3 separate regions of the Homo sapiens genome follow, and regions 1 and 3 are each linked to region 2. The links come from fine-mapping of genetic effects on gene expression. A gene starts in region 2. Each other region holds a variant in brackets. All regions are shown on one strand. Distances are between the middles of the regions.

Region 1 (8,182 bases), 190 kb after region 2:
CGTGGCACTCCCTCACTCCTGTGCCGACGGAGCACCTCAGCTATCACCAGGGGCCTCTCCCACGAGGCACTGAAGAGTCTTGTGGGTGAAAATGAAATTTTGAGGGAAACCTTAAGCTCTCTCAACCATTAGAGGCTGAGTCAGGCAACAAGATGGGGTCAGGAGTGACTCTGGGAGCCTCCTGGATTGTGTGTGGGGTGAGACGTTGGGAGAGTTTGGAGAACACCATTCCAGCTGGTCGCTTTGTCTCATGGGGACATGTGGTGCTCATGGTATAGCTGCCTCATCTTTCCTCTACCCTTTTTCAAATGTCATTTTAGTAGAGATGACATGCCTGCCTTCCTTCCTGGGGACAGAGCCTTGGGAGGGTGAATGTTCCCAGAATAGACTCTGGAAGTTCTGAACACAGAGCCTTTTCCCACCTCCACGAGTGTGTGCTGGGTGTTTCCTAAGAGACAGTGAGCTACGAACTAGGGATGCAAATCTGGTTATCATACTTTCTGTCTATCAGGACAGAGAGGTAGATGGACAATGTATTACAACTTAATAGGAGCTGTATTAGTCAGTGTTCTCTAGAGGGACAGAATCAATAGGATATATGTATATATGAAGGGGAGTTTATTAGGAGAATTGACTCACACGATCACAAGGTGAAGTCCCACAATAGGCCGTCTGCACGCTGAGGAGCAAGGAAGCCAGTCCGTGTCCGAAAACCTGAAAAGTAGGAAAGCCGACAGGGCAGCCTTCAGTATGTGGCTGAAGGCCCAAGAGCCCCTGGCAAACCACTGGTGTAAGTCCAAGAGTCCAAAAGCTGAAAAACTTGGGGTCTGATGTTTGAGGGCAAAAAGCATCCAGCACAAGAGAAAGATGAAGGCTGGAAAACTCAGCAAGCCTAGTCTTTCAAACTTCTTCTGCCTGCTTTATTCTAGCCACGCTGGCAGCTGATTAGATGGTGCCCACCCAGATTGAGAATGGATCTGCCTCTCCCAGTCCACTGGCTCAAATATTAATCTCCTTTGGCAGCACCCTCACAGACACACCCAGTAACAATGCTTTGCATCCTTCAGTCCAATCAAGTTGACACTCAATATTAACCATCGCAGGAGCCATGAGTAAGATGTGTCTGGTGTATTGTGGGAACACAGATGAGGGGCTAATTAATTCTGACTGGGCATATCTGGATAGATTTCAGAGAGGAGGTGATAATTGACCTTGACTTTGAAGGAGGAGGAGATATCCACTAGACTGACTGTTCTGAAGTAATTCTTGCTAAATGCTTGCCTGCTCTTTGCTGGGGACAGTGAAAAAGGAAAAGGAGGGGGATAGTGGTTCCTGCCCTCAAGATATTCACAGCTTGTTGGGGAGAGAGCCTGGCACTATGAACCAATGAAAGCTCTGTGTAGACAGATGGGATTGTGGAGGCGGAGAGGCTAGCAGGGGGACTTGGTGATCCAGGGTTTCCAGAGTTACTACTCTCTTATAGAGAGAACACAGTTTCTGTAAGGATAGTTCAGTCCTTGCAAAGATGTCTTTAACTACAAGAGGCCCAGCCCTCTGGCTTTTGTCTCACCCAATTATTTCACCACCTTGTCTCTGTATATTATAAGTAGTTAGCTGGATTTGAGGTGGGGAGGGAGGAAGTGAGGGTGCCTGTGCTGTTTCTTACGCCTTGCATACCTTCCCTTCCCTCTTCCCTTCCGTCTTCTACACTGATTTCAGGTTCGTCAGATACTTTATCAGTTCTTCTCTGTCCTTCATCATTAAGCTGGATTCAGCATTGTTCCCCATTTTTTAACTCCACAATGAGATGATAAACGCCATAAAAGCAGGAGTAGTGTCTTCCTGCTTCTCTTATTTCCCCTGGGAGCAGTTTCTGTGGTATAAAGAACATGGGTTTCTCAAGACAGGCTTGGCATTGAATCTCAGCATTACCACTTACCTTGGAATTTGGGCACAATTTCCATATCTGTAAAATGGGATAACATAGGGCTTTCTCAACCTCAACATCATTGATGACATTTGGGGCTGAATGATTCTTTGTTGCGAGGGGTCATCCTGTGCACTGTAGAATGTTTAATGGTATCTCTGGCCTCCACCCACTAGCTGCCAGAAGCAGCACTCTCTCTCTCTCCAATCATGGCAAAACTGCCTCCAGATGTTTGCCAAGCATCCCCTGTGTAGCAAAATTGCCCCCAGTTGAGAACCACTGGGATGGTGCTACCTATGGGGTATGCATCAGTCCTCCCAGGTCTGCATCTCACCTAGCACTCAACACATTGTAGGTTGGTGAATTACATGGAGCTGTGTCTCTAGGTTTTAGCAGTTTGGGGTAGAAATGTTGTGGAACTCTTAGGTTGCCCACACAATGCACTAACAGAGTCACTGTCATTTTCTTAATTGCAGATTGATCTGGAGCCAGAAGGAAGAGTGTATGTGATCATCGATCTCTCAGGGTCGTCGGGTGAAGGTAGGAGAGCGTGACTTCTCATCCCTGTTTTCTTCCATTGGCCCTTTGCCTTCTGGGTCTCTTCTTTCCCCCCCTTGGCCGGAACACATTATAGTGACATTTAATTAATTGGCATCCTTTAAAGGAAAAGGTTATTTTGAAGATGCTTACGCCTGTGTACCAAAAGGGACCAGCCATCTGTTAACTTTGGTGGAGCAGAGGGAAGATTTTGGACTTACCAAGTGAGGCCAATAAAACGGGCGTTTTTGCACGCTGTGTGCAAGGCAGGCTTCAGTGGCAGGGCAGCCTCTCCCAGGAGGCTTGCGTGGGGTTTGTGTGTGTGTGGTGGGAAGGAAGTAAAACCAGTTGGTCTAACGGCATCCAGAAATGAAACGAATAAGGTGACAAACTTCAGAATCTTCTTTAGAGCTTTGATAGAAGTGGGACTTCTTTTACCAGTTCTTTACACAGACAAAAGCTCTGCTCTTAAAGAGAAATAATGGGGTGAGGGAACATCTGCTCCCCACTGACTGATTAGATGGCGTATTACACCCTCTTCCTCTTACACCCTCTTCTTTCAATCCTTTCTTTGCTCACTTAACTACACTTAAGACCTTTGAAGGGTTTGCTGGGTGTTGAGGACTGAGCAGTCAAGGGAAGAAGGGAAGCCTAGAAAATAAAACCTTATCCAAACAGGAACAAGGAGATAACAACCAACTTAAGCTCTAAGAAAGATTTGGAATTCGGACTGAAATGTAGTTATTGTGGCCTTCTTTTCTCTCCTACTCCTCCATCTGTGGGCAGGGGGACAGAACAGTTGGCTTTAATGCCATGGCAGGGATATTGGAAGACCATGTGTAGTTCCTCTTGGCAGTGAGAAACAAACAGTGTTTGGGGACTGTGTCCCAAAAGGAAAAATGGACACTCAGCTCTCTCAGCTCTCCTGCCTGGAACACTTGGGCCTTTCACAACATCTCCCCAGAATACTGGGGATCACAAGCTCAAAGTCACAATCCCACACACAGTCTCTAGTTTAAGGCTCAGTGATAGAAGGAAGGATTACATATTCAGTTAGTCAAATGATGTGCTTGACAGTGGTGCCTGATGATTTCCATTCAGCTAATTTATCACCCAATCTCAACAGGTATTCGGAAGAATTCAATAATTGTGTGTATATGGGGATTATAATAGAATTAGGCCCTCTTTTAATAGATCCCAATTATTTGGCATAGGTTTAAAACTTTAAACAGCCTTCCAAAATTGGTTGCTTACATTTCCTGCTCTTTATTGCAATTACATTTTGGCATTTCCAACTTCCCTTCTCTGCTCTCAGCTCTGAACTGCCCAGAATAGAACCTGTTGTAGAAGATTTGAGGATTTAACAATATTTCACATGAAATATTTAAGACCTACAAAAGGGC[A/T]TAAAGACAAATTAAATGAGCACCAGTGTGCCCACCGCCCCAATTAAGAATTAGAGCAAGCAGTGAGGTGAAGCCTTGTCCTTGCTTTTAACATAGAAAGTGATCCAAATTCACCAGACTTGACTTAAGGTTTTGCAGTGTGGCCTCCTGATTCTAGACACTGGCGAAACATTTGATGGGCAAAATCAATCCCCTTTTTTCCTTACATAATCTGTGTGCAATATGATAATTAATTAAATATGTATTTCCTGTGCCAAGATGCTGAGCAACCAATGGGAGGCTGGGACTATTTTCTCTTTCTTTGAAAAGATAAATGACTTGCAAAATTATAGAAGACATCCTTTTTTACATTAGAGGGAAAGGAGATGGACAAATGAATGAATAAATAAATCAGAAGCAATTGATTTTTTTCTGCTTGCTTCTACAGCTTATTGCATGTGAATAGCCAAAGCAATTTTCACTGGGCTAAATTCTGAGTCTATTTTTTAAATCTCTTTCATCTAAAGAAAATAGAGTTTACTTTAGAAATGCTGACACATGCCAGAGTCTGAAAAGTGCTAGCATGTGTTGCTCTGAAGAAAAGAAGACATTTTTCTACTTTTTTTTTTTTTTTTTTAAATTGCTGTTCTTGGACTTGGGATCCTTTCTTTCGATGGTGGGTAGGACTTTCAATAATCCGTTCTGAGAAGCTGCTCTTGTTGTTTGTGTTATACACATCTGTTCTCCCAGTCCTGTTGCTGGGACTGTGAGGGTTCCTAGCCTGGAGGGGGTTTTGGAAGAGTTGAGAGGGCAAGGGGAGGCCCTAGAGAATGAGAAACCACAACATTTCATACCTAAACCACGTGAGATGGGTCTGGGGTGAAGCAAGTTGTCACAACCACCCTCCTGGATTTACAGACTGTGGACTAAGTATTTTTTTTTTTTTTTTTAGTGAAAATACCTAACTCTGCATTCTGTGAAAGGGAGAGAGTTGAAATGAGGCACAGCTGAAGTTTCACCACTCCATTATTCTGCCATCAAGCATCCCTTCAGCTCCCATCTCTCAAATGCTGCAGCCCCATCAATGGAAAAAAATACATTCATGGGAATTGCACAAAGTTTACAACACATGCAAATTCCAAGGAGCTCAGAGAGAGGTGTGGGGGTGAGATGGTGTGACTACACCCCCTTCTTCTAGGATGCGCCGAAGGATTCTTTTTCTTGCTCATATGCTGTTAGAAAGCCTGGGCGTTTACGTCTGCTGGAGCTGGAGCTAATGTGATTTCTAACTGTCTAATAAAATTCCACTGCTTGCATGTCCTGTGCAGTTCACTATAGTGGAATCTGGCCAGTGTGTGTTTTGGCTAAACCAGCCATCCTAACCCCAGATGTAAGGGGGTCAGGCTAGATGACAGTTAAGGTCATTTCCGGCCATGTGATTTTATCCTTTGGTACAATTTGAATAGACATCTGTCAGAGCTCGTGGCTGAGGGCTGGCTAATATGTACAGAAAAAAGGAGTTGCAAGAAATGGACTCGTTTGGTGCTAGGTATGGTGCTAGGCACTTTACCTACATTATACCAAGTAGCAAACCTGCTCAAAATGCTCTTATGGGAAGCTCCAGTCTCAGTCCATGTTTTACTTGCATCGTAAGTAATAATCACAGGGGGTTCTGGTAAGGGTGGCTCTCCAGGCTCTCCAGATGCTTAAATCAAAGCACAATTAGCCCAGGTAACAGAGGCATAAACAGCAATGTAATTCTCACCTGTGCAAATGATGGTTTCCTGCTGTGCCCATTTGTTAGTATTTCTTCCCTTCATATGATGTAATTTGCATATTATTTCTTATTCTTTCTAATAATGTGGCAATGCCCCATGATTCACAGGCTTACCGATGAGAGACGGTCGGCGCCTGACCTGGGGACTGATAGGTTCTTCTTCCCATGCCTTGCACCTAGGTGTCATGCTCACCTGGGAGAGTTCTTCAGCATCTAAACCAACAACAGCAATAACAAGTAGGCCCATTGGTATGTTTGGATCACCAAACTGTTTCTCCAACAAAATACAGAGGATACAAAGGAATAGGAATGATTTTTGCAACACGTACCTCACAAATGATGCAGATAAGTCAAGTTCTGGAGGGATTGCATATTGTGGAAGCAGAAGAGCAGGGAACAGGAGGCACCCTGTTTCTTTCTGCAGCCACAGGCTGAAAGGGGTCAGTCTTCTCTGTGGGACTCAACAGATAGAGGAGAAAGAGCACAGCCTTAGGAGTCCTTCAGACCTGGATTGAAATCCTGGCTCTAGTGTTTAGTAGCTTAGAGCCTCAGATTTCTCACCCACAACACAGGGATAATGGTTCCTATGGTAGGTGCTAGGCCAGGATTGTCATAAGAACAGTGCTTTGGTACAGTGCCCTCGCATGTAAGAGATGATCAGTAAATATCATGAAGCCTTGGAGACCTGAGGGCAGAGAGGTTGGCATAGCTCTACCCAGTGCCCTTGAAGAAGCATCTGGCAGGCTATTCAGGGAAACTGTTCAAGGACAGGTTTCTGACGCTGGGGTGGGACATGTTCACAAGGGCCAAGAACAGAGCCAGGTACCAAAGAGGCGACTTAACAGAGTAATCTATCTGGCAGGGACTGTGCGATTGCTTTCTGCACAGTTCAGGCCTTGCCTCAGTTTTGCCTATTGTCACTCCATTTATTCCTTATCCTCTCCCAAGTAAAGTAATTCCTGGAAGGACATTCTCTAGCATCCCTGAGCCACTCATTTGCATTCCGTGGCCCTTAATGCTAGAGGCTTCTCCTTGTCAGAGCCTGGGCTTGTCCCATCCCTGCTTAGTGTGGACCATAGCATGTGGTCCCCATCCTCTCACCAGCCCTTGGGTAAAAGGCCTTTAAATATTTGAAGACAGTTTTTCAATATCTCTTTTTTCAGGCTGAATCAATCAAATCCCTTAACCTTTCAGAAGGGATATTTTAGAAATCTTAACTCAACTTTGCAACCTCTTCTGGACTTTTTTCAAGTTGCACAGGCAGACGTGATCAAACCAGCTTCGCTTGGTTCTGAAATAATAACATGTGTGTAGAGCTCTTAGCTTTACCAAGTGCCCAGCAGTATTACCTCCATGTGGGAGATGGTGAAATTGAGAGGTCAGATGATGTGCTCCAGGCCAAAAGGTTGATTATGAGACCCTGCTGGGTCCAGACCCCAGGCCACAATCCAGGTCCTGCTTCCATTCATGGCCCCAGTAATGAGTTTGCCACATGGCAGTGATTCCCCACTCCACCCCTGGTTCGATCTTTTTATTTTAGTTCTCTTCTTCAGAAAGCTTTTTATAGAAATATAAAGCCAAAGTTCTTAGCTTTGAATCCAAAGGTGACCAGAGTCTCCTTCATAAATAAGCAGATCCCTTTTCCACTGTGTTAGAAATAAAAGCTCTTTTGGTCCGAGCTCAAGGTTGGATCCTTCTCAGGTTGTCTGTAATGTGGATCCATGGCTAAGTCTTGGTCTGAAACTAGACCTGACTCAAATCCCAGCAGGTTAATAATTCTTCCTACTGACCTGCCCTCCTTGCTAGAGATGTTAGTTTTGTATGTGAAGACTCTGAGTCCATAGCAGGCATTAGAGCAGTACCTCCAGGGCTGAAATCAAAGTGAAAGGGGTTTTTCTCTTGAAACTCTGTCTTAGCCAGTGGGCAGGATACATATCGACGGGTTCTCTCAGATTCAAGCCCCACTGGAGCTTCAATTCATAAGAATTTTACCTCTTTTCTTCTAAATTCTACGTTAATAATCCAATGTCTTCTAGTTAGTAGAAAATTAAAAAGAACCATTCATTCAAATGACCAATAGTTAGCAATTCATTTTTTTTTTCTTTTTTTGAGACGGAGTCTTGCTCTGTCGCCCAGGCTGGAGTGTGGCAGCAGGATCTCGGCTTACTGCAACCTTTGCCTCCTGGGTTCAAGTGATTATCCTGCCTCAGCCTCCTGAGTAGCTGGGACTACAGGCATGCACCACCATGCCTGGTTAATTTTTGTATTTTTAGTAGAGACAGGGTTTTGCCATGTTGGCCAGGCTGGTCTCGAACTCCTGACTTCATGTGACCCACCCACCTCGGCCTCCCAAAGTGCTGGGATTACAGGTGTGAGTCACTGCATCCAGGCTACCAGTGCATTTCAACAAATGTGCCCAGCTTTGTGTCTGTGCTGGGTTTGGGGAATGGAGAGTGGAGAAGGAAGTAGAAAATGGGAGATGGCATTCACAAGAAGTGTAAAACCCCTTTGCCTTCAAGGAGCTTGCAATTCAATTAGGCACCCTAGACTTGCAGGATG
Region 2 (8,182 bases):
GAGGTCTTAACTATCAGGTTCCTACTTACTTCATCTCCTGTTACTACCTGCCACAAGTGGGGCACACCTGGCCGCTTACCTGAAGAGTCATGGCTTTCCTACCTGTACACATTATACTTTTTGCAGCCAGTACCCTTCCCTTCCCTCTTTGCTGCTGGAAGAACTCCTGTTGGAAAGCCTAGACTCAGCTCAAAGGATTCTGCTGGTTGATGCCTTCCCAGGCTCCCCAGGCAAAGGGGTGATCCTTCTTCTGTGCCACTCCCATCCATAGACCTATTGCAACACTGATCGCCCTGTCCTGGCCACATCTGTTGTTCTATTCTTTTCTCATAAGCCTTAATTTTGAAAGGAGAAAGGCTCCATTTTGGTCATCTTTGTTAAATTATTGTATCATTTTCTTCCTTCTCACAAAGATTATGAAATAACTAGGCCATAGTTGGAATCCAAAGGTCATTTTACTCAATGTATATGCTAACCACTGTCTTATCCTTTGGGATTGGAGACAGGGGCTGAGGGAAGGATGAAGCTGGCAATAATTTCCTATTGGAATTTTACCGTCTAAGCCCCCTCCTTGGGATTTTCTTTTCACATGAAACCTGGAGCAGGGGGTTATTTTGGACCTGGCATCTCCATGATGTCCCTGGGGAATTCAACTTTTCATTTGGCCAAGTTTGAGAGTAGGAAGGCGAGAGATTTATTTAGAAATAAGGAGGTAATAAGGGCAGGAAACTAGCAGTGTTTGCATGCAGACTACCAGCATTCTCCCTTTTTATGTAAACATTAATCCAATACAAAACATGTATTTTGTTTGACAAAGTCTTTTATTACCCTTGCTCCAAAAGAGTTGCTGTAATGGAAAGGAGACAAGCATTGGTCGCCCTTGAGAATTGCAGTCTGGTGATTTACACGGAGTAACAGTCTGCTGAGCCAGCATGCTAGGAAATGGTGCTGGAAGTTTGTAGGTTGTTTTAAGACAGTCACTGAGATGGTAACAGACCCTATTTAATATATTTGGGGGCTGGGCATGGTGGCTCCTGCCTGTACAAGACTTACCCAAAGCAAGTAATGAGAACATATGAAGCACCAATTAGTCAAGGATCCCTAACTCCATGAAATCCTTGACTTTCCAGACTTCCCAACAGGATCAGGACTAGGGTGAGATGAGTGACGCACTCGGCTCAGGTACAAAATTTAACAGGTGCCAATAAACTCAGTAGTATAAATATTTTAGTGCAATATTTAAAATTATTTAAAATGTGGATATTGTGTCCATTCTGGATTCTCACATTTTTATTTTTAAAAAATTGTATTAAATCTTTATCTTGATTACGTTTATTGGTACCCTTTACATTTTGCCTCTGAAAAGTATCTCACTCATCTCACTTTGGTGCTGGCTCTGCTTCCCAAATGCATTTTCAGAAGATCAAGCCATATTTGCCACTGCCTTCCATCACATGCCCTGGAAAGGGGGAAAGAGGCTTCATGAGAATAGCAGAGTGGAAGGAAGAAGCAAAAGGGAAAAAAGTAATAATCAAAGAAATAAAAATTAAACAGCAATGAGATACCCCTGCTTGTGCTTTGTCAAACGGACATATTTTAAGATATCGTATCTCCAGCTGGGGGAGTGACAGGGTAAGACAACCATTGAAATCCTGGCTTTTTACATCGGAGCTACCTAGATCATACGGAAGACTGAATCTTAGCACCATCTCTACCCAGCTGCCCTGTTCAACAGGGCAGGCTGCGAGAAATTACTGTATTAGGAAGCTCCAGAGCGGTTGCAGGCAAAGGCTTTGCCTGTTCTTAGGAGATGGCCCTAGAACTTTTCGGATCATTTTTGGGACGTGTTTGCTGCACTTGATATCCTGTTTTTCCAGGGGACTGCCTCCTTCCTCGCCTTTAAGCCTTTTTAGGCTTTTAAGCCGCAGGCAATGATAACCTTTACCCACTGAGGAAAAAGTGATCGGGAGGCGCGTTTTAAATTTTGGTTTACACTAACCAGACCCGCCAGATGAACACTCAGCTTACCACAATACCTACAAATTCCCAGACTTGACTTGGCAGAAGGGCGAGGGCGGAGGTTTTCTTTCCCCATTTGCATAATCCCCAGCTCCCCGGCAGCGGAGCCGACCTCTTCACCGCCGCCGTCTTCGCGGGTGTCCCAGCTGGGCCGCGCCCCGGGGCCCAGCGCTCCGGCCCTGCCCTCCCAGGTTCCCAGTCTCGGGCGCGGGGCAGTCCCTCGCCGGCCGCCGGCCCGGTCCCGGCTCCCAGCCGAGGAAATTTTTCCCCAGCAGCCCAGGGCTCTCCTCACGTGACCAGCCGCGGCGGTAGCTTCCAGCGAGAGTTTAAAGGTTACGGAGGAAATTAGCAAGGACACAGCCACTCGCCCCCCGGAGGGCGCGCCCCATTTTCCCGCAGCCCGGACGGCGGCTGTCAGCGCGCTGATCAGTGCCGAAGTCCCCCAAAGGGGCACCGATAAGGACCAGCGCAAACAGGAACAGTCACTTTGCAAAAAATAAGCAGACCACAAACCAAGCCGGGGCTCTACCGAGCTTTCACTTGTCAACAAGTTCTCGCAGCCTGCGAAGTCCAGGACAGATCCCAAAGGGGAGAATGTCCCCAAAGAAAGGCAAGAGAGAAGAACAGAGTTTAAAACTTCACCCGAGCCATGCTTGTCCCTCCCCCTTCCCCCTCCCCCACCGCCGTGGATCACAGCGTCCCGGGACAGAGTGACAGATGGGCCAGAACTCCGCAGACTGCTCCTGCCCGCCGCGGCCCGAGTGGGGGTGGGCAAGGGAAGGGTCCCGAGGCCTCTAGGGCAACAGGGCCCCCTCCACTCCCCCATCCCCGGCTCTAAAAGACAGTGTTGGCCGCAGGGTCCCCGAGAGATACGCGGCCCGGCGGGGCCCATCCATGGCCATCCACGGCCCCCGGCACGCGCATCCAGCCCAGCGCCGCCGCACCCCGGGGTCCCGCGCGGGGTCCCCGCCCCCCGGCTGACCCGCCCGCCGCTGCGACCCCGGGCAGCCTCGCCAGCTCTCCACCGTTGTCTCCTCGGCTCACTTTTTCCGTATTGCTCCCCCAACCGGCAAAACTTTCTATTTCCCCAAACACTGCCGTGCGCGCGCGCGCGTGCACACACACACACTCACACACACACACTCACACACACTGACGTCTTTTGCGCATTTCCTGCATTAGAGGGAGGGAGACTCGCTCGCACACCGACAGAGGGAGAGGAGACCGCGGGGGAGCGCGGGCTGGCGGGCGGCGAGCGAGCGGCAGCCGAGAGCGGGGACGCGGGGAGCGCGGAGGGCGGGCGCCGGCGCCCAGGAGGTGGGGCCGCGCTGAGTCGCAGTCCCTGCCCCGCCGCCGCGCTGCGCACCGCCCGGTGCTGGCCTGCGCCCCCGAGCCGGATCGGCGGCCGCCCGGACTCCGAGCCCGCGCGGATGTGAGATTCCGGGCTCCTGGCGCCTCCCGATCGCCGGCTCCGGCGCGGCGCTGCTTCGCCCAGGAGGCGGCGGCCCCGGCTGGCCGTGGGGCTTGTGGATTTTTAAAAATTTGGCTCCGAGGAGGACCATTTCCTCTCGACATGCATCCCTCCGGATAGACTGAACATCCCTCCGTTCACCCCCCCGCCCCGCGCGGTCAGAGGCAGGCGCTGAGTGTGCGAAGAGGATCCGGGTTGAAATCTGCGCCCCCGGTTCTCGTCCCCGCCCCGTCCCACCGCCCCATCCCCCTCCCGGAGTCGAAATTTCCCGGGATTATGTTTCGGAAAGGTAGGTAAGCGCCGGGCGCGGCGCCCGCTTTCCCGCAGTCCGGAGCCGGAGAGCCAGCGAGGCGGCGAGGCAGCCCCCGCGGCTTGCAGCGGAGCCGACAGCTCGTCTTCTCTTCTGGAGGTGCAGCTGGTGGTCGGGGGGAGAGACTTGCTCCAAACACGGACATCCCCCAGCTCTCCCCCCTCCCTGTTTTCCGTTAGGAACCCGGCGAGGAAATACATGCACTGGCTGAGAATCGCCCGCGCCAGGGCGCAACGCCACAAGGTGTAGGGAGTGTGCGGGGTGGGGCGAAAGGGGACCCAAGAGTCCCTGTGGCTCGGAGTGCCGGGCCGTCGGTTCTTCATTCCTGCCCTCGGGGCAGACGGAGTGACCCCGGCCCCCACTCCCCGCCCCGACCATGGTAGTGTTCAATGGCCTTCTTAAGATCAAAATCTGCGAGGCCGTGAGCTTGAAGCCCACAGCCTGGTCGCTGCGCCATGCGGTGGGACCCCGGCCGCAGACTTTCCTTCTCGACCCCTACATTGCCCTCAATGTGGACGACTCGCGCATCGGCCAAACGGCCACCAAGCAGAAGACCAACAGCCCGGCCTGGCACGACGAGTTCGTCACCGATGTGTGCAACGGACGCAAGATCGAGCTGGCTGTCTTTCACGATGCCCCCATAGGCTACGACGACTTCGTGGCCAACTGCACCATCCAGTTTGAGGAGCTGCTGCAGAACGGGAGCCGCCACTTCGAGGACTGGGTGAGTGCGGCGCCTCCCCGTCATTCCGGGAACCCGGTTGTGGGGTCCCGGGGAAAGACTCGCTGGTCTTGATCGTAGGGCTCCGGGACTTATTGACGACTGGGGTGTGTGTGCCTGTAAGTCTCAGTTTCCTTGGGGAGGTACACTTCACTTCATAGTTGGGGAGAAACAGGCATTGGCGAGGAAGATGAGACTTGGAAAGAGGATGTGGCCCTCTGCTCCCTCTGTGCCCTCCAGTTGGTGGGTGCTGCGGGAGGTTTGCAAACTGGGAGAGCCTGGGCCACTGGTGCTGAAGGTTGGCCGAGGACCCGGCTTTCTTCCGCAGGCGCGTGGTGGGCTGGCTGTGTGTGATTGTGTGTGGGTGGGTCCCTCCGTCCTTGGAAAGGCACGTGGAGCCTTTGACTGAAGGCTTCTTGCACGTCCTGGCTTTGTCCTGCTTAGCCGAGCGAGGAGTTGCTTTATTTTTCCCTCCGAGAGGAAGCTGGCTTGTTTCTATTCTCTTGCATGGTGGTTAGCTCATCTTCTGACATACAAGTAGAAAAAATGTGTTCTCCTCCAGGATGTCTCCTCTATGGTCCCAGAAACATCAGTCGAGCTTGTTTTGTCCAATTCATTGCCCATCCATGCAGAATGAATGTTGCATTTTAAGAAGGGTTCTGCTTGTGGGTAATTGGAAGTCAGTGCTTTGAATCTTATTTAAAGTTATATTGTTTCTCTGTTTTGATTGTCAAGATACTGTGCAATAAAAGACGATTTCTAAGTATGAGATTGAGTTGTTAATTGATTCCATTATTAAACTATTAAGGATTTGGAAAGAGGTCTTGTCTCAATCTACTATAAACCAAATGCATCCAGTCTTGGCACTTGGACAAGCAGAGAGAAGCAAACCTTCATTTTGCTTTTTGTGTTTGTTTTTGGGTTGTTTTTTTTTTTTTTTTTTTTTTTTTCTCTCTTCTTGGAAGGAAGGTATTAATTTAGGATGTGGATTTTTGTGTTTTCAGGTTTGTTACATGTTTCCAGCAAGTACAAGCGTTCCTCTGGAGGTATATGTTTTCAGGGTTCTTTGGTCTACACAAAAAGTGAGAGAGCTATCTAAGCCTCAAAAGTGGTGTAGAGCAATTGCTTTCTATTGAAAACCAGCTAACTTCATGAATGTCCTAGAGGTCAGAGGTTGCACATGGATCACTTTGGCATATCACCTTACATATTTTTTTCAAGGACACGGAGTTTTAGGGAAAAATAAGAGAGAGCCTGTTGTTTTTGTGCTCATGGCTGTGATGTAGTCTGCCTGAAACCATGGTTACGGTTTCACAGGGAAGCTCCAACAAGCCACATGCGTAGAACTCTAGATTTGTGGTTTGCACTTTGGAAAGCAGGCAAACCTTTATGGAATCCCAGAGAACTCCATGCCATTCTATTCTACTTCACAGATGTCCCTCATCTCTGCTTCCTTCAGCCCCCACAACAGAGCTCCCACTCATTCCCCATTTCTTTTCCATGCATGGCCTTTGGGCCCTTTCCTCATGAATGCAGTGCATATGAGAGGGGGAGTGGAAGGGATAACTAATTTCAGAGGTAGACCTTGACTCTGAAAACCTGTGATTTTGGAGTTGTTGTTTTTGGACAGGAAGGGGGTGGAAAAAACTTGACGCTGGTAGCTAGGAGATGGGAGCCTTTTGCAGTGTATGCAGATGAGGGGCTTGGACAGTGGGGCAGAGAGCAGGGATGAGGAGCAGCAGGTCTGCATTTATCCATAGAACAGATGTTGGTTGGAGGGAGAGTGTCTTTGTATCTCTGGTGATGCTTCACTGGGGCACACCCCAAACTCTGGGAGCTTCAGGACACTGTCCCCACCTTCATCCCTCCTAGTGAAGCATGCAGTGGGAACTTGTTTGGTTATCATCCTCTAAGGTTCTCAAATTCATGTTGGATTTGGCCCTAGGCCAGATCATCTAGTGCACAGGCAAGTTTTACAGATGAGGACATTGAGTTCCAGAGAAGCTAGTTGGGGACCGAGGGTCACATGACAAGCAAAGGTGGGTTGGAAGTAGGGCCCTCACCGCCTGTTGCCCATGGCTTGTCTGATGGGGAGCCGAGCCTGCCCATCTGGCCTCCCAGCCTATTCTCCCTGCAGATCCATGTGCTGTGTCCCTGACATTTTTATTGTACTTGATAACTTCATCTCTTTTGCCTTATAGCAACTGTGAATTAGGTATGGCAGGTATTGGACAAACTAAAAAACTTGAGATAGAGAAGCCCAAAGTCTGAAGGATGAGTCAAGCAGTGGAGCAGGTTCAGAATGCCCATCTGTTTTCACCAGAGGATGCTGTAGCCACTCTGGTTCCTCCAGGCTGAAGGTGGGGACTCATTGGCAGGGGTGACTGGCCCCTGGAAATGGAGACAAGTTGCAGCTGGGCTAAGTTCACCTTTCCCAGTCTTAACATTCAGGGTAAACCCATGGTTTCATAGCTTTGGGTAGAATTCCCTGGGCTCAGGTCTCTTCACTCCTTACCTGGCAGGAATGAAGAAACACACCCTTCTCAGGTGTGGCTGAGAGATCTGGCCTGAAGTAAGGGGATGTGGATAGCATAAAGCAGCCGTTTCTCTCATTTTTGCGGAACACCGAATTCTGCCGCACTTTGAATTCACTTGTATTCCTGGAGTTCCTGTTTTGTGCTCATGTCTAACCAGGGAAGCTTCTCACTGTGGGCCATCCAGAGGAAAATGAGGCCCTGGGTTACTCTCAAGGGGCTTCCATTTCACCAAGGAATTGACACCAAGTACCCACATATACATCAAGCTTGTCTAACCCATGGCCTGTTAGCCACATGTGGCCCGGGATGGCTTTGAATGCAGCCCAACACAAATTTGTACACTTTCCTAAAACGTTATAAGTTTTTTTGCATTTTTTTTTTTTTTAGCTTATCAGCTATCATTGGTGTTAGTGTATTTTATGTGTGGCCCAAGACAATTCTTCTTCCGATGTGGCCCAGGGAAGCCTAAAAGTTGGACACCCTGATGTAGACACTTAACTAGCAATTAGGTTCCACACAGGTGGTACCATTAGTGTGTTAAGAGTTTAAAAAGGGAGTGTGGGCTAGGCACTGTGGCTCATGCCTGCAATCCCAACTACTTGGGAGGCTGAGCTGGGAGGACCGTTTGAGTCCAGAAGTTCAAGATCAGCCTAGGCAACGTAGTAAGACTCCATAACTACAAGAAACTTAAAAATTAGCCAAATCTGGACCTGCGGTGTGGTGTGTGCCTGTAGTCCCAGCTACTCAGGAGGCCAAAGTGGGAGGATTACTTGAGTCCAGGAGTTCAAGGCTGCAGTGTGCTATGATCTGACCATCAGGCCACGGCATTCCAGCCTGGGTGACAGAGTGATACCCTGTCTCTTGAAAAAAAAAAAAAAAAAAAAAAAAAGGTAGGGAGAACTGGAAGAATCCAGGAGGGTTTTTGGAAGGAGGCATGAGCTGAGTGTGAAACAGTAGGTTATATTTAAAGAGGTATCTACAAGAAGGAGCAGTGTTCCTGGCATGGCCACCGCAGGAATAAAGGCAGACAATCCTGTAGTCAGGGTTGGAGAATGGATGAGCAGGACAGAAACTGAGTGTACCTGTCAGAAAGGAGTGGGCAGGACAAGGTTTCCCAAATTTAA
Region 3 (8,182 bases), 250 kb after region 2:
GGTAATCACTGTGAGAGACGGCATCATTGCGAACTTGGAAATCAGGGCCCCTTTTTTGGTCAGGTTGCCCATCTTGTTTTGTGCTAATAGACATACATCATCTTTATTTTTTGTTTTTATTTTTAAAATTTGAAGAAAGTTTATGTAGGTCAAATGGATGAAAGAATAGTTAGTGTTACAGAACAGAATGCAATTGAGTATCTTTAGTGGGGTAAAAGGCACTTTGCCCATGATAATTGCCAGATGTTTAGAGGTGCAAGAGGAGATGGCACCCCATTTTTTATGGCTACATTTCAGTGGCTTTCATGACAGAGATTATTTGTTTCCTGCCTTGGTTGCAGCCCAGCTGAAGTAAGAGGAGTCAAGGTCAGTGTGGGGGGTACTGAGATGGAGAAAACAGCAATATGGTTTATGATTTGAGAGGAAATGTTTTCTTAGCCACTCACATATCTTTCCATGGTTCTTCCTGAAACTCCATCACAAGAAATTAAATTATTTGAGTTAAGAAGTGGCTTTTAATAATCACTGCTGACAAGGGCATGATGAGACACCCGGATAAACTGCTGGTAGGATACTGATTTGCCCAACCTCTGGTGTGATTTGGGCGATCTCTATGATAGTCATTTCAGAAGTATATACCTCTTCTTGCCCAGCAGTTTCATCTCAGTCAATAAGGACGCAGTTGGGCAAGTGCACACCAGGCACAGGCGTGGTTCCCTTTTGCAGGCCCCTCGTGATAGAGATGACTGGTAATAGTCTAATTCCCAAAAACAAAAAGCAAAGATGAAGCCACGTGGCTTTTATGACCTAGTCTCTAAAATCACAACTCATCGCTTCACCTTATTTATTCATTAGAGGCGAGTTATTAAGTCCAGCCCACACTAGGAGGGAGGGGAGTTAAGCTTCACCTCTGAAGGGAGGAGTAAGAGAGAATTTGTGGGCATAGTTTAAAACAGCCACAAACACATGAAATTATGTTCAGTCTGAGCATGTTAGTGTGATTAGGATCTACCTGCTGGAAGCTGTCTGTCTTCTCAGTGGGTAACAGAGAGCAGCAGCAAAGGGTAGGGCATTTGACTTTCACACTAGGAGATACTTGGATAACACTTAAGGAACAGAAAGCTACTCAGAGAGGACTGGGTCGCTGGAGTCTGGAAGCTTGGTCCCACCACACATTGCTTGAGGACTCTGAGTAAGTCAGATGTCCCCTGGGCTTTCCTATCTGGTTATGCTGAGGATCTAATAAACCAGTGCAATTGAAAGCACTATATAAAACATGAAGCTGGCTGTTACTATCATTACCACTACTGTTACTGTGGGAAGAGAGTACCAGTGTGGGAGATGGAGAGGGGTGGGACATAGAAATAGAGGAGTAGAGAGAGGGATTTGAATACTATTGTAACCAGATCAGGATTTCCTAGGGTGGCTCTGAGGAGGGAGTGGAGAAGGCCTGCCTTGGCTGAACTCGCATGAGGCCATGCCATGATGATCACAGGGACTTCTGTGAAGGACCCCTGTCTTGGGTCTGCCAGAACTCTAAGGCCTGGTCCATGAAAAAGGCATCAGTCAGGGTGGAATGTCCCAAAAAGAAAGCAGCCCCCAATCTTCTTAGCTAGGCCATACACCCAACTCATTGTTTCAGGACTTACATGTTCATTCCTGGCTTTGTGCCAAGCCCTGTGCTAGAGGCTGGGGAGACTGTCCAATAGGCCATAGCGCCTTCTCTTTAGAATCCAAGTCCCGCAGGACAGGAAGACTGCAGCCGTTTTGAGTGAAAGGAGACTGAGCTTTGGCTGGTGGCCTCATTCCCTAAGCCTGGATTTGACCTTCAGGAAATGTTTTCTCAGATGGCCTTATTCTCTCAGAGGTCACATAGGTCTGAAAACTTTGTCTTTGGAAATTAAACTTTTTCCCCCTTTTGATATTTATAGGCTTCTTCAGTGTTGGGCAAAGATAAAGCCAGGCCATTGCATTCAGATGATTATAATTGCCACTCCTCCTTCCTTCCAAGTCTTTTTAAAAAATTTTTTTTCTTTTTTTTTTTTTGTAGATAGAGTCTCACTCTGTTGCCCAGGCTAGAGTGCAGTGGCACAATCATGGCTCACTGCAGCCTCAATCTCCCTAGGCTCAGATGATCTCCCCACCTCAGCCTCCCAAGTGACTGGGACCACAGGTGAGCCCCACCATGTCTGGCTAATTTTTGTATTTTTTTGTAGAGACGGGGCTTTGCCATGTTGCCCAGGCTGGTCTTGAACTCCTGGGCTCATGCAATCTGCCTGCTTCGGCCTCCCAAAGTGCTGAGATTACAGGCATGAGCTACTGTGCCTAGCCCCTTCCAAGTTTTAATGGCCAACACCATAGTTCCCGAAGGCCCTGAATTCTCTCTCAGAAGTGGCTGGGCCTGTAGGTAGTGCTGTGCAGAGCATTCCTGCCTGAAGTTCCACTTGCTGTTGACCAGGGCAGTGTGGAGAAAAGCCTGACACCACCTGGGGAGAAAGCCATGCGGCAATTGTGTCTCTTTTCATTTCTTGGTTATATTTCTAGCATGAAGGGGCTCTAAATATCCAGAAATAAATCTTTCTTCTACTAGCCCGGGCTCAACTATGAAAGATAAGTTACTTTTACTTAGCTGCTTGTGACCTCTGACTATATATTGCACAGTAAACCAAGTCAGTTCAGTGTCTTACTAGATCAGCTAATCTATAACAGATTTAAGTGGGAACGGTTGCTTCGGATAAAATGCAGTTGGAAAAAACCCAGAAAATAACAAGCGTTGATGAAGATGTGGGGAAATGGAAACTGTTGTTTGTTGCTAGTGCACATGTAATGTGGTGCAGCCCCTGTGGAAAACGGCATGACATTTTCTCAGAAAATTGAATTACCATATGATCCAGCAATTCCAACACTAGGTATACATCCCAAAGAACTGGAAGCAGGAACTGATCAGATGGATATTTATACACCAGTGTTTATAACAGCATTATTCACAATAGCCAAAAGGTGGAAACAACTCGAATGTCCATCAGTAGATGAATGGATAAACAAAATGTGGTCTATACATGCAGTGGAATATTATTCACCCCCAAAAGGAGGGGAATTCTGATACATGCTACGCCATGGACAAACTTTGAAAACATTATGCTATGTAAAATAAGCCAGTCACAAAAGCACACATATTCTATGATTCCACTTACATGAGGTCCTAGAATAGTCAAGTTCATAGAGGTAGAAAGTAGGATGGTGGTTGCCATGGGCTAGAGGGAGGAGAGAATAGAGGACTATTGTTCAATGGTAGAGATTTTCAGTTTGGGAAGATGAAAATGTTCTGGAGATGGATGGTGGTAATGGTTTCACAACAGTGTGAATGTACTTAATACTAATGAATTATATACTTAAAATTTACCATTTTAACCACGTTTGTGTAATTTACCACTGTAAAAATCTTTTTAAATGTAATTGATTCCTAAATTTATGCTGCCAGGCATATGATTTTGGGATACAGGATTGAACCAGACAGAAGGCCTGACTGCAAGGAGAACTAGATTGCTTTCTGCTGAGGAGAGATGAACAATACACACTTAACAAATGAGTAAGGCAATACAGGTACTGTAAGGACTTTGGGAAAGAAACTGGGTAATTAACATGGTACAGAACCATGCCTCACATATGTGGGATGGAGATGCTTTCGCTGGGTTGGCTAGGGAAAGATTCTGATGAATTGACATTTGGGCTGAGTCCTGATGAGCAGAAATGATTTGATATCATAAACTCTACTATGTATATAGATGTTTGGAATCCATTTTACTGGAAATCTCATTGAGATTTGAGATGCAGAAAAATTGCTACAAAATCCAGAACTTAGTACAAATTGTGCTTACAAAACCGTCTGTGTTGAGTACTCCTAATCGGTTGCTTGAGGATTGAGATGGGGACAAGCAAGGCATTAGTGTTTCAGAATGTTAAAATG[G/T]TTCTTACCCAAGGCCAAACGCTCCGACCTGGTCATGTTTTCATCTAGGTAAGGTATTAGCCTGTTCACATATTTCTCATGTAATATTTTTAGGAACTAGATCCAATAAAGTTTGCCCTGGGCCTTCTTGGAAAGACTTGTGCCTTTTAGAAAAGAACCGATTTACAAAAATCAACGTATGGCTGATAGATTTTTAACTTGTCATTTAGAAGATCAGTCTATTTCACCTTGGAAACTAAGGCTATTTAAAGCTGTGAGTGTAAAGTTTGAAGGATTTTTTTATAATTCACCTGAGATGGAAAGAAATATGCTGCTGGGACGATGAAGTGTGTGCACAGCTGATTCGTACAATGTGTTTACATTTCCCATTATGTATCTTAGAGACTCTCCTGTTGTTGCTCAGATTTTTCTTTTTAACTCAGTCTTGGGGTAGAAGATTAAAGTTCCCTGAAGAATATGGAAATGCAGTTGAATTCTTGGAAGTCTGTACCGTGCTGGCCTTGGTTTGTGATGAAGCTCACACACGATGTCTGTAAAACCCTGAAGTCCAGCCAGGTGCGGTAAAAGAGTATGGTGACTTCAGAGTTTAAGAGCAGGTCATTTTGCAATAACTTTTTATAAGAGTACATGGCCATCTTTGCCTTAGGATAGTGAAGTGGTATTTTCCAGGACAGAAGAACTGAAATCATCTGAATTTCTAGGTTGTAGATCCCACAGTCCTTGGGAATTTTGACTTACAAACTAGGAAATTATTTCACCCTCATAAAAATCTCCAACCCTCTCAGGTCTTTCCCACTCCCACTTGGGTTTGAATTGGAGTGTTTGCCCAGCCATGGTGATGATTAGGAGGTGTAGCAATATGGGCCCAGAAGGCGACTTTGGGATTCATCTCTCATCTCTCGTAGTGCATGAGAGAAGCCAGCTCACGGCTCTCTTAGAAAACATCCATTGTTCCTGAAACCTGCAGTAATTGGAACATGAGTGTAATACATACAGTAAACAGAATTCTGCCTATAAGCTCTTACCAAAAGCCTGCCAATGCCCAGCCTGCCAATGCCCAGCCCATCTTGAACTAAGGGGCTGTGATCCAACAGGAGGATATTGCCCACAGGTAGCTCCAAGTCTGCCTGAGGAGCTAAGATAGAAATGAAGTAATCAGAAAATACTAGCAAAAGTCAAATCAGGATATTTGGATTAACATCCTGAGGACATGGGATGTGTGAAAAGCTGTGCTGGGGAAAAGTCAGAAATGAGGAACTGGCTGGAGTGGGCAGGAGAGGCCAGGAGGGTCAGGGAAGTTCTTGGAGCTGGAACTTGGGTAAGGTCTTCAAGAAAGACTGTGACTACACTGGTCTGGGAGCTTGGCTAGGAAGACTTCTGAAGAACCCAGCCCCCAGACCTAAAGTAGGGGCTAGAAAGAAACAGTAACTCAAGGGTTAGTTATGTTTCAAAAATATTTACATTTCTGATATCCAAAGTGTTCTCTGTAGGGTTAATAGCTATTAGAAGGGAACTGGAGTTCAGTGGGCTCTGTGGCCAAATAAGTTTGGATAGTGCTTGAGTGAGCACTGGGAGTTTCTGGACTGCAAGACTACTCAGGCCTTTGTATGCTGATGTACAGTGACTTTCCCAGATGGGCATATATAGCATACAACTTCCTGCTTATTTGATTGTGGAATTATGTATTTTCCCCCCAGGAGGATCCTACGTGAATATAGTTTAGTTCCAAATAATATAATTGAGTTGAGGAAATGCTAGTCTAAATGATTTCACTTCAGTATGTGTTTTAGTGTGAATCACTATCAATAGTCATGTTTTCAGTGGTCTCAGTGCCCGAGGGAGTTGATTGGAAGGAAGTCAGAGGGACTTCATTAAATAAGTCAGTGAATGAGGAGTCCTCCAAGGGATCCCTGCCTGGCAAGAAATACCCTCAGGCCATCTTGGTTCAGAAGTTATTCCTCCATACATTAACAGGCACATAACACAGGCTTTAAAAAATACTAATTTTGTGAATATTATGGCTACTCCATAGACAGAGCATCCCCTTTTCTTCACTTGAGATACAGGGAAGGATTTTGTGTCAATGGTATGGCGTCACCATCCCCATGGGACAGGGTTGCAGCAGCTGGGGCTGTGAGGGAAGATGAGGCCGAAAGACCCAGCAAGATTAGGGTTGCAGGTAAGATACAGGACACCGTTAAATTTGAACTTCAGATCAACTCTGTATAATATTTTGGTATAACTATGTTCCAAATATTGCATGTCACATAGTTATAAAGAATTATTTTTTCTGGAATTGAAACTTAAACAGTCATCTTGTATTTTTATCTCCTGTCTGGTAACCCCATGTAAGATGTTCAGGGAAGCCTAGACACACAGACCAGAAAGTGATGTAGAATGTACAAGGCAAGGCAGTGAGGAATGATTCCAAGTTTTAGAGAGCCCAGGTCTTCCTTCTTGGAAATGGGTTAATACATCCTCAAACCCTCTTCCCACCTCATCACTTTCATCATATCCCCCTCAGTTTGGGAGCATTTGTATATGAGAGCTTGTAGCCTGGCAGTTTTTTTTTGTTTGTTTGTTTGTTTGTTTGTTTGTTTTTTTTGGCAGGGTCTCACTCTGTTGCCCAGGCTGGAGTGCAGTGGCATGATCCCTGCTCACTGCAACCTCCCATTGCTGAGTTCAAGCGATTCTCGTGCCTCACCCTTTGGAGTAGCTGGGATTACAGGCACGCACTACCACACCCAGGTAATTTTTGTATTTTTAGTAGAGACAGGGTTTTGCTATGTTGGCCAGGCTGGTCTCGAACTCTTGATCTCAAGTGATCTGCCCTCCTCGGCCTCCCAATATGCTGGGATTAAATCAAGTGCAAGATCCAAAATGTTACTAAAAAAGCTTTTCAGCTTTTTAGATTCTCTTAAAAATGCAAACAAACAGACAAAACAGTTTCTTAGAAAGAAGCCGGTTGCGTGCGAACCGAGAAGTCTTGAAACCAAAAGAACTCCAAGTTCCCTGCCTGTGCTGAACACTATGGGGGTGGCACGTGCCCATCCAGGGCAAATCACAGGGGGAGAAGATGAGGTTTCTTAACAGTACCACCTCTCACTTTTGGTATTTGTAATGGAGAACACAGACTTATATCACATGTGAAAATGAAACAATGGTTTAAAAAGTCATGTCTCTGTGCTGGCTCTGGATGAGATGAGCCTTTTGAGAAGGCAGAGGCGTGCTCGGTGGGTTGGGCTCTGGGCATTTCTTCCCCTGCCAAGAAGCGAAATGTCTTAGCTCCATGTGCGTTGATGATTACTAACTGGCCAGGGCTTACTGTAAGTGGGCTGTGCTCGGGGATCTCACCAGGAAGAAAAAGAATCAAACTAATCCCTTTCTGGAAACCGTCTCCCCCGGTTGCCTGGGCCACCTGTCCCAGATGCGCTCCTCTTTCCCAAGACTCTTGCTGTCTCCCCGCTGCCCCAGAAGCCTGCCTTTTCTCCAGCCCTGCATGGGACATTCTCCTGATGGCAGGGACCCATGAGAGGGGGGCTGGGTGAGCCTATGTGCTGTGAATGTGTTGGTGAGCCCTGGGGGAGGAGTCAGGGGAACCTGGGGAGCTGGGGGTCCACGTGTGAGGTCCCGGGCGTGGACCATGGAGAGCTGGTAGCCTTTGTTGACCATTGTACAGACAGCGACAGGGGCTCCACATCACTTCAGCAGGCACGGTGACACACAGGACTCACTGGATGCTACGGTGTTAATCACACCACTGGTGCTTGCTGTATCCTATGGCAACAGCAGCTCCTTGTTAATTCAGAGTAATGCTGGGGCAGGCCGTAGTCCAGGCCATCTCACACTGGCTAGGGCAAACCCTGGCTCAAGAGCATCCTTGACTTATGGCCAAGCCTCAGGAACCTCTTGGCTGGCTCTCCAACATAGCCCACGCTAACCCAGTTTTGGAATCTGGTAGTGGGAAAACAGGGAAGCTCCAAAAAAAAAGTAACTCAGAGGTCAAGGTGAACCCTGAATGAGTCCATTAGATTCCACAATCAATATCCAGCTTCTAAACATTATACATATTGATGAGCTGATTGCTAGGAGACTAGTGCTGAGAGAGCTGAAATCTATTTTGCTGAGGCCAAATTGGCTGTTGATGGGCCATAGTAGACTATGGCTTTAATAATCAGGTAAAAAACACCCTGCCATCTGGTAAAACACAGCTTA

Direction of the effects. Positions count from the first base shown, and alleles are read on the strand shown. Sizes are in standard deviations (SD) of each study's normalised expression. Not every link is listed here.
For the expression in spleen of the gene that starts at base 3,751 in region 2, allele T in region 3 goes with a higher level than allele G (small effect, 0.31 SD a copy in GTEx).

The links. PIP is the estimated chance that this variant, and not a neighbour inherited with it, causes the effect.
Region 1: its variant is fine-mapped to the expression of PRKCE in whole blood (TOPMed, PIP 0.98).
Region 3: its variant is fine-mapped to the expression of PRKCE in spleen (GTEx, PIP above 0.99).

What each region holds. Positions count from the first base shown.
Region 1 is chr2:45,840,597-45,848,778 of GRCh38, forward strand. PRKCE (protein kinase C epsilon) reads left to right here. Exons shown (of 15, transcript NM_005400.3): 2 at 2,404-2,467. Among named protein-coding and RNA genes, the nearest start is that of PRKCE-AS1, 170 kb to the left of the region's middle. RefSeq lists a silencer at 176-295. The variant A/T (reference allele first, on the strand shown) is at 3,868.
Region 2 is chr2:45,647,925-45,656,106 of GRCh38, forward strand. It overlaps PRKCE (protein kinase C epsilon), which reads left to right and starts at 3,751. Exons shown (of 15, transcript NM_005400.3): 1 at 3,751-4,524. The coding sequence starts at 4,177. It overlaps LOC102724965 (a long non-coding RNA gene), which reads right to left and starts at 3,291. Exons shown (of 2, transcript XR_005647119.2): 1 at 2,041-3,291; 2 at 803-1,459. RefSeq lists silencers at 2,181-2,280, 2,911-3,010, 3,181-3,650 and enhancers at 3,026-3,320, 3,809-4,429.
Region 3 is chr2:45,897,352-45,905,533 of GRCh38, forward strand. All of the region lies in intron 2 of PRKCE (protein kinase C epsilon), which reads left to right. Among named protein-coding and RNA genes, the nearest start is that of PRKCE-AS1, 230 kb to the left of the region's middle. RefSeq lists an enhancer at 7,243-7,312. The variant G/T (reference allele first, on the strand shown) is at 3,968.